Linked DNA regions of Homo sapiens. The protein of the gene in region 1 purifies or fractionates together with the protein of each later gene. This does not show direct contact. Each region holds a gene or a part of one and is shown on either strand. Other genes may lie near its edges.

Region 1 (3,909 bases):
TTCCCTTGTTGATGACATTACCATACATTCAATTTTCAAACCAGTAACCTAGGAATTATCCTATACGCTCCTTCTCCCTCAGCCGCAATCTCTGAGCTCCAGAGCCTACCCCTTAATTACATCTCTACTTTCTTCTCAGTGCAACCGCCACTGCCTTAGTTCAGTACATTTTCATCATTTGCCTGGATTACTGAAGAAGCCTAAATGATCTATTTCTTCTTTGATCGCCATCAATTCCTCCTCCAAAATGCTGCCAGAGGCCAAAGCCCCAAACTGGACTTCGAAAGCACAAATGACTCCTCCTCCAATGTTGGGATAAAATTCAAATTGCTGAGCTCAACACACACAAGGCCCGCGATGATCCAGCTTCCACATCATCTCTTTCCTCCACACTTACCTCCCTTGACTTGCTCTTCCTAAAACCATTCATGGTGACTGGTATTCCCTGCCTTTATGGAAGCTCTTCCACTGGCCTTGGAAACCCACCCTCCTACCTCTGCCCGGTACTTAACTGTGAATACACATCAGACTTACCTCAGGAACTTAAAAAAAAAAGTAGAAAAGATCCTATGGATAAAATTGTTTCCCTTTTAAAGAACTCCACTAAGATTCGAAGAGAAAGCTGGATTTGAGAACAACCAGTGTGCAAGCTCTTCCTGAGTGTCATCACGTCTGGGGGGGGGGCCTGTCCGACCCGTCCTCTCTTCCAGTCTATCTCTGATGACCTTCTTCTCTGTCCCTTTAGGACTCTGCACATGTTTCCATCATTGCACTTACCTTGGTGCTCTGAACTCCTGCTAAAAAAAAAAATTATTACCTGGACAAATGGCCTACAGAAAAGTGATCGTCTCAGCTGGGCTTAGTTGTGAACAAACACGGATTTGCATTCATATATGCCCAGACTCTGGCCCCAAAAGAACATTTCTGAAATTAAAAAACAAAAAACGAAATTGGTAAGTGGCATTTATACTCTATATCCCATCTGAGCCTGGTATCGATCCTATTACAGACAGATACTGCTGGCTGATGAGGAAGCCCAGATAGGTTAGACAACTTGGCTGTGGACTTCCAGGAAACAGCAGAACTGCAATTCTGACTCCCAGTTCCACAAGGGGCTGTCCCCACTCACGGGGACAGCTAGGCACCGAGCCAAAAATCCCCCAAGTTATTAGCCCGCGCAGGTAACATCAATCCTAGGATCCTCAGCTGTGTCACTTATCAAATACCACACTCGGCCTTCTCCTTGTGGAGCTCTTTTCCCTCAAGGCAGTCACCCCCGTTTCACTTGGGTCGTGCAAATTGCTGGGCACATCCTTAGATCCCCAGAAGTTGGGGAGGACGGACAAAGTCCTGTGGCCAGCAGCAAAAGCTCCAGCCCCTCCAAGTGGGAGAAACAGACTCTCCTCCAAACGAAGGGACCGGCCGGGCGCGGCGGCTCGGAGGATCCCTGGAGCAGCTGAGCTCAGCCTGGGAAACACAGCCAGGCCCTGTCTCTGCAACACATTTTGTTTTTAATTAGCCGGGCGTGGTGACGCGCGCCTATGGTCCCAGTTACTCGGGGGGATGAGGCGGAAGGATCGCTGGAGCCCAGGAAGACGAGGTTGCTGCGAGCCGTGACTGTTCCACTGCACTTCAGCCTGGGTGACAGAGCGAGACCCCGTCTCAAAAAAAAAAAAAAAAGAAAAAAGAAAAAAAAACAAAGGGAGGGACTCCAGGCGAGAGGCAGACGAGCGTGTGGAGGGAACCGACACTTTCCACCCCGAGACCTCCCGCTCAGCCCCAAGGAAACTACGCAGTATCCACACCAAAAACAGCTCACACGAGACCGCAGTGTAGACAACGGAAGGACAGGGGGTCGCAGCGGCCGGGTCCAGCGCGCAGGAAGGCAACAGGCGGCCGCCAGCCGTCGAGGGGTGCTCCCGCCCCCGCACCGAGGGAAGCGGCCGAGCCCGCGCCGACTCTTCCCCCATCCGCCCACCGGGACCTAGGCGCCGCGATGGTTCCCCGAAGCGGCCCTGCAAGCACAAGCCGCGCCTGCGCTCACGCCCGCCCGACCTACGGCCTCCAGCCCGCCGCTACCCTCACCGCTCTCTGGCTGGCGTCGGCCTCTAGCCCACCTCCATACCGGGCCCCGCTCTAGGCCACCAGCGGAAGTGCGGGCCCGCAGCCGCAGCTACCAACCAGCTGTTGCCGCGAGGTAGGCCCCGCCCCCGCGCTGAGTCGGCCGGCCGCAGGCCCCGCCCCGGCCGCTGCTTTCTGGTTTTGGTGCCCCCCAGGGGGCGGGGCATGGGAAGAGCGGCCGCGGTGCACCGCCCACGCCGGGCGCTGGCGTCACGTCCGGGCAGCTGGGGCCCGACCAATCCCGAGTCCCCGTCAGGGTGGACGGGGAGAGTTTGCCGCGGAACCTTGACCTCGGCCCCGCCCGGGGCTTCCTGCGGGTGGGGCGGCTCCGGGATGAGCTCTGCTGCGGGTGGGGTCAGCCCTTACCCGCTGGCCATTTCCGTTCCCTCTTTTTTCTTCTTTTTTCCACGCCTCAGGTGTCTCAGCGGATGTACTACGGTGACGAAGTAATTTTTCTCTTTAGATTTCCTTTAAAGACCTGAAATGTAAATTACATAAACGTGTAATTTCGGAGGAATATGTGTATATCCTTTATATTACAAGAAAGGGAGACCTTAGGTCTTGCGAACAATGCGCGCGATGCGCAACACAGCAGAGTAAATCCCTCGCTGGTGCGGTGGCTCCCGCTTCTAATCCCACCACTTTGGGAGGCCCAGGCGGGAGGCTCGCTTGAGCCCGGAGTTCAGAGACCAGCCTGTGCAACATAGCGAGACACCCGTATGTACAAAAAAAAATTAAAACTCAGCCACCGAGGCCGGGCGCGGTGGCTCACGCCTGTAATCCCAGCACTTTGGGAGGCCGAGGCGGGTGGATCACCTGAGGTCAGGAGTTCGAGACCAGCCTGACCAACATGGTGAAACTCCGTCTCTACTAAAAATAAAAAGATTACCTGGGCGTGGTGGCGGGTGCCTGTAATCCCAGCTACTCAGGAGGCTGAGGCATGAGAATGGCTTGAACCCGGGAGGCAGAGGTTGCAGTGAGCCGAGATCGCACCACTGCACTCCAGCCTGGGCAAAGGAGCGAGACTCTCTCTCCGGAAAAAAAAAAAAAAAAAAAAAAATTAGCACCTGTGGGCCCAGCTTGTTGGGAGGCTGAGGCAGGGGGTGGATATCCATTGAGACCGGGAGATCGAGACTGCAGTGAGCCGTGACTGTGCCACTACACTCCAGGCTGGGGAACAAAGCAAGACCCTGTCTCAGAAAAGTCTATAAATAAATAAAAATGAGTAAAATCCACTGGAAAGCCTATCCCCCCCCTTTTTTGTTTTTGAGATGGAGTCGCGCTCTGTCACCCAAGCTGAAGTGCAGTGGCGCAGTCTCGGCTCACTGCAACCTCCGCCTCCTGGGTTCAAATGATTCTCCTGCATCAGCCTCCCGAGTAGCTGGGAGTACAGGCGTGTGCCACACGCCCGGCTAATGTTCATGTTTTTAGTAGAGATGGGGTTTCACCATGTTGGCCAGGATGGTCTCAAACTCCAACCTCAAGTGATCCGCCCCGCCTCGACCTCCCAAAGTGCTGGGATTACAAGCGTGATCCACCGCACCCGGCCCCTACCCCCTTTTAGTAACGCCTACTACTGACCACGATGATGCAGCGTCACCGTCTTACAGTTAATAGAGGAGACAGGGAAATTAAACAATTAGTAGTGGTGACTCAGGCGATAAAAAAAGAGGCTGAGATGGGCCAGCTTGGGAAAAGTGGGTCAGATACAGCCTTACCGAGGAGAACCCTGGCCCGAGGATGAGGAGCAAGCCCAGGGGAACACTGCGGGAAAGGCCCAAGGCGAAG
Region 2 (3,909 bases), on another chromosome or scaffold:
GGCACTTTCTATTTCAACCTCCTGGATCTGGGTGGACAGCTGGGAAGAGCCACATCTGAGATAATCTGACTGAAAATGGGACAAAGTGCTCCATGATGGAAGCACCCCACTGCCCTCAGCAGGGACTGTGACTAGGACGGAAGTGATGGAGGACAAGCAGCAGCTGATGTTGAGGACTTCCTGAAGCCAAGGACGCCCTGGGGTGGGTGTGGCCTTCCCTGGCAAGCTGTCTCCTGAAAACCAGGTGCTTTCCACCCACATCCACTGACTTCCTCCCACTTCACTTATTATCTGGGCAGGAGGCTGTCACCTGGTACATCAGACATAGAAAGAACTAGAGAAAAGGCCATGTGCCTCCACCAGCCCCAGGCCAAGCTCTTGCCCATTCTGGCTGGGCCGTGCGGCGGGCTTGGACAAGGCTCTGCCTGCCTTGTCTGAAGAGCAGTGGGAAGAGGGTTCAGAAGGCCAGAGAGATAGAATTCCTAGATGACGCTGGAAGACTCAGCCTGTGGCCCTGGCTTGCCAGGACTGGCTGAGACTCCAAATTCAGGCCCTTCTCCTTCTGCGGCTGCCCTCTGGGTCTGTCCCTAAGCCCACACCTCCTCCTGCTCGCACGCAACCATTCAGGGTCTCAAAGAGCTGCTTGGGACAGTGCCAGGATTTTACATTTCAGAGAGTGCTTCAAACTGGTCAGGAAAGAACTGCATCTTTCTAAAATTTGCCGAGAAAACAGAAAGAAGGGCAAGATGGTCTCACTCTACTACACACCCCGAGGACAGCAGCAGGAAGTGAGTTTGCTCGCCTGTGGGCCCAGAGCTGGCTCAACCATAAATGAGTCTTTCAAGCCTTGGCATTCAACCAGCCTTCAGACATGAATCAGGACATGTCTGGACCGGCCAGAGCTATTACATATGTTTGGCCCCAGAACCCACATCGGTATAGAAACCACTGACACCAAAGGCACAAAATAAGACAACACTAATGAGTCCTATAAACGATAAACAACTGCAACCATCTCAGAAACACCATAGGATTATAACAGTCAATCATCACATCTGGACAAAAGTCCTTCCTTTTCATGTGCTGTTTGTCACTCCTACAAGGAAAGAGGCCTATATTATTATCCCTTTTGAAAGGTGAGGAAAGCGAGGCTTAAAGATGCTTACCAAGGTCACCCAGCTTCAATAACTAGAAACTAGGTCTGACTCCTCGTCCAGTGCTCTCCCCTAAATATAAACCAGCTCCTTCATGAGAAGAGGGAAGGCATTAAGGCAGGTGGCCTAGCACCCACAGGCAGGGAGGGACAGTAAAGAACGTGGCATTAGGCTACAATGGGGATCTGGGCAAAGCCCCAACACACTTCCCAGCAGGTACTCACCCCAGGAGCTTGCTGTGGTCGAGCTGGTGGCTGGGGGGCATTCGACAGGCACTAAACACAATGATCTTCCGCCCATACTTGTCATCTCCTAGGTGTGGAGAAAGATGGAGCACAGTGGGTTGAAGGGGAACCAAAAGAAGTGGGGTGAGGAACTTAAAGGGGCCAGGCCTGCTGATCTGAGCCAGTTACCACAGGGGCCAGAGTGCCCATGCAGACAGACCTCCGGGCAGCCTCCTGCATGCAAGGGTGTGCCACTGAAGACAGGGACAGCTTGCTTTCAGGGCTACTGAGCTGGGGTATTAAAAAAAAAGTGATTTTTTTTTCTTTGAGATGGGGTCTTGTTCTTTCACCCAGTCTGGAATGTAGTGGCGCAATCACGGCTCACTGTAGCCCCAATCTCCTGGGCTCAAGAGATCCTCCTGCTTCAGCCTCCCAAGTAGCCAGGACTATAGGTGAGCACCACCATACCTGGTGAAATTTTAAAATTTTTTGTAGAGACAGATCTCACTATCTTGCCATGGCTGGGTCTTGAGCTCCTGGCCTCCTCCTGCCTCAGCCTCCCAAAGTGCTGGGATTACAGATGTGAGCCACCGCACCCAGCCAACATCACTTTTTAAAAAGTCATGCCGGCCGGGCGCGGTGGCTCACGCCTGTAATCCCAATACTTTGGGAGGCTGAACCAGGGGGATCACCTGAGGTCAGGAGTTACGAGACCAGCCTGGCCAACATGGTGAAAACCCATCTCTACCAAAAATACAAAAATTAGCTGGGTGTGGTGGTGCACACCTATAGTCCCAGCTACTGGGGAGGCTGAGGCAGGAAAATTGCTTGAACCTGGGAGGCGGAGGTTGCAGTGAGCTGAGCTGGTGCCACTGTACTCCAGCCTGGGTGACAGAGCAAGAGTGTCTCAAAAAAAAAAAAAAAAAAGTTATGCCTGGTGCAGACAACCCAAATGTCCATCAGCGGATAAAAGATGTAGTTAATCCATGCAATGGAATACTGTTTGGCCATAAAAAGGAATGAAGTACTGATACATGCTACAATGTGGATGAACCTCCGAAACATTATGCCAAGTGAAAGCCAGTCACAAAAGGCCACCAAGTCTATGATTCCAGTTACATGAGATGTCTAGATAGGTACATGCATAGAGACAGGAAGCAAATTAGTGGTTTCCAGGTACTGGGAGGAGTGGGGAATGGGGACAGACTGCTTAGTGGGTACAGCATTTGGTATGGGTATGGGTGGTGAAAATGTTTTGGGATTAGATGGAGGTGATAATTTTATGACATTATGCACTAAATATTATACCACTGAATTGTACACTGCAAACTGATGAATTTTGTTATGTGATTCTTATCTCAAATTATTATTACTATTATTTTTTTTTAGATGGAGTCTCACTCTGTCACCCAGGCTAGAGTGCAGTGGCACAGTCTTGTCTCACTGCAACCTCCACCTCCCAGGTTCAAGCGATTCTCCTGCCTCAGCTTCCCGAGTAGCTGGGATTACAGGCGCCTGCCACCATGCCTGGCTAATATTTGTATTTTTAGTAGAGACAGAGTTTCACCATGTTGGCCAAGCTGGTCTCGAACTCCTGACGTCACGATCCACCTGCCTTGGCCTCCCAAAGCGCTGGGATTACAGGCATGAGCCACCACGCCCGGCTCTTACCTCAATTTTTAAAAAATGCTCACTAAAGCATTTGTGATCTTGCCAAATAGTCATCTTATAAGTCTACACTTTTCCAAAAGCACCCCCGCTGAGCAGTGTGTATTTGGAAAGCCTCTTGAAGTTACCTTCTCAGCATGTTTCAGCCACTGAGGAAATCAGTCTGATTACTTAACAGTCATGTCTCATTTCTGACCACTGACAATCGCTTTCTGATTTTATTACTAGAATTTTTTTTAAGAGATGGGGGTCTCGGCCAGGCACAGTGGCTCACGCCTGTAGTCCCAACACTTTGGGAGGCCGAGGTGGGCGGATCATGAGGTCAGGAGATCGAGACCATCCTGGCTAACATGGTGAAACCCCGTCTTTACTAAAAACACACACACAAAAAAAAAAATTAGCCAGGTGTGGTGGCGGGCACCTGTAGTCCCAGCTACTCGGGAGGCTGAGGCAGGAGAATGGCATGAACCCAGGAGACGGAGCTTGCAGTGAGCCGAGATCGCCCCACTGCACTCCAGCCTGGGTGATAAAGCGAGACTCCGTCTCAAAAAAAAAAAGACAAAATTAAAGAAAAGAGATGGGGGTCTCAATGTGTTGCCCAGGCTGTTCTTGAACTCCTGGCTTTAGGTGATCCTCTCACCTCAGCTTCCCAAGCAGCTGAGACTACAGGTGTGCACCACTGCACCCAGCTTATTACTAGAATTATGGACGACACTGGTTCTGATTGACTTCTGTAGGTTTCTAAGCATTCTATCCTTTCTCATTAAGATATTCTAGGGCCCCCACCAACCCTTAAGACTCAATGCAGGCATAATCGCCGCCTGGAATCCTGTGTCCTCGCCCTCTCTCCCCAGACAGGTTAG

What was found.
Region 2: the proteins of SETX (region 1) and ARHGAP1 purify together in Homo sapiens (affinity purification with mass spectrometry; 2 studies listed by BioGRID and IntAct, with this or other methods). This does not show direct contact.

The regions. Positions count from the first base shown.
Region 1 is NC_000009.12:132,352,832-132,356,740, forward strand, and holds the start of SETX (probable helicase senataxin), read right to left. Parts: upstream 2,156-3,909; 5' UTR 2,086-2,155; exon of another isoform or gene 1,806-2,085; intron 925-1,805; 5' UTR 818-924; intron 1-817. UniProt on the Homo sapiens protein: Probable RNA/DNA helicase involved in diverse aspects of RNA metabolism and genomic integrity.
Region 2 is NC_000011.10:46,686,795-46,690,703, forward strand, and holds part of ARHGAP1 (rho GTPase-activating protein 1), read right to left. Parts: intron 1,467-3,909; coding exon 1,379-1,466; intron 1-1,378. UniProt on the Homo sapiens protein: GTPase activator for the Rho, Rac and Cdc42 proteins, converting them to the putatively inactive GDP-bound state. Cdc42 seems to be the preferred substrate.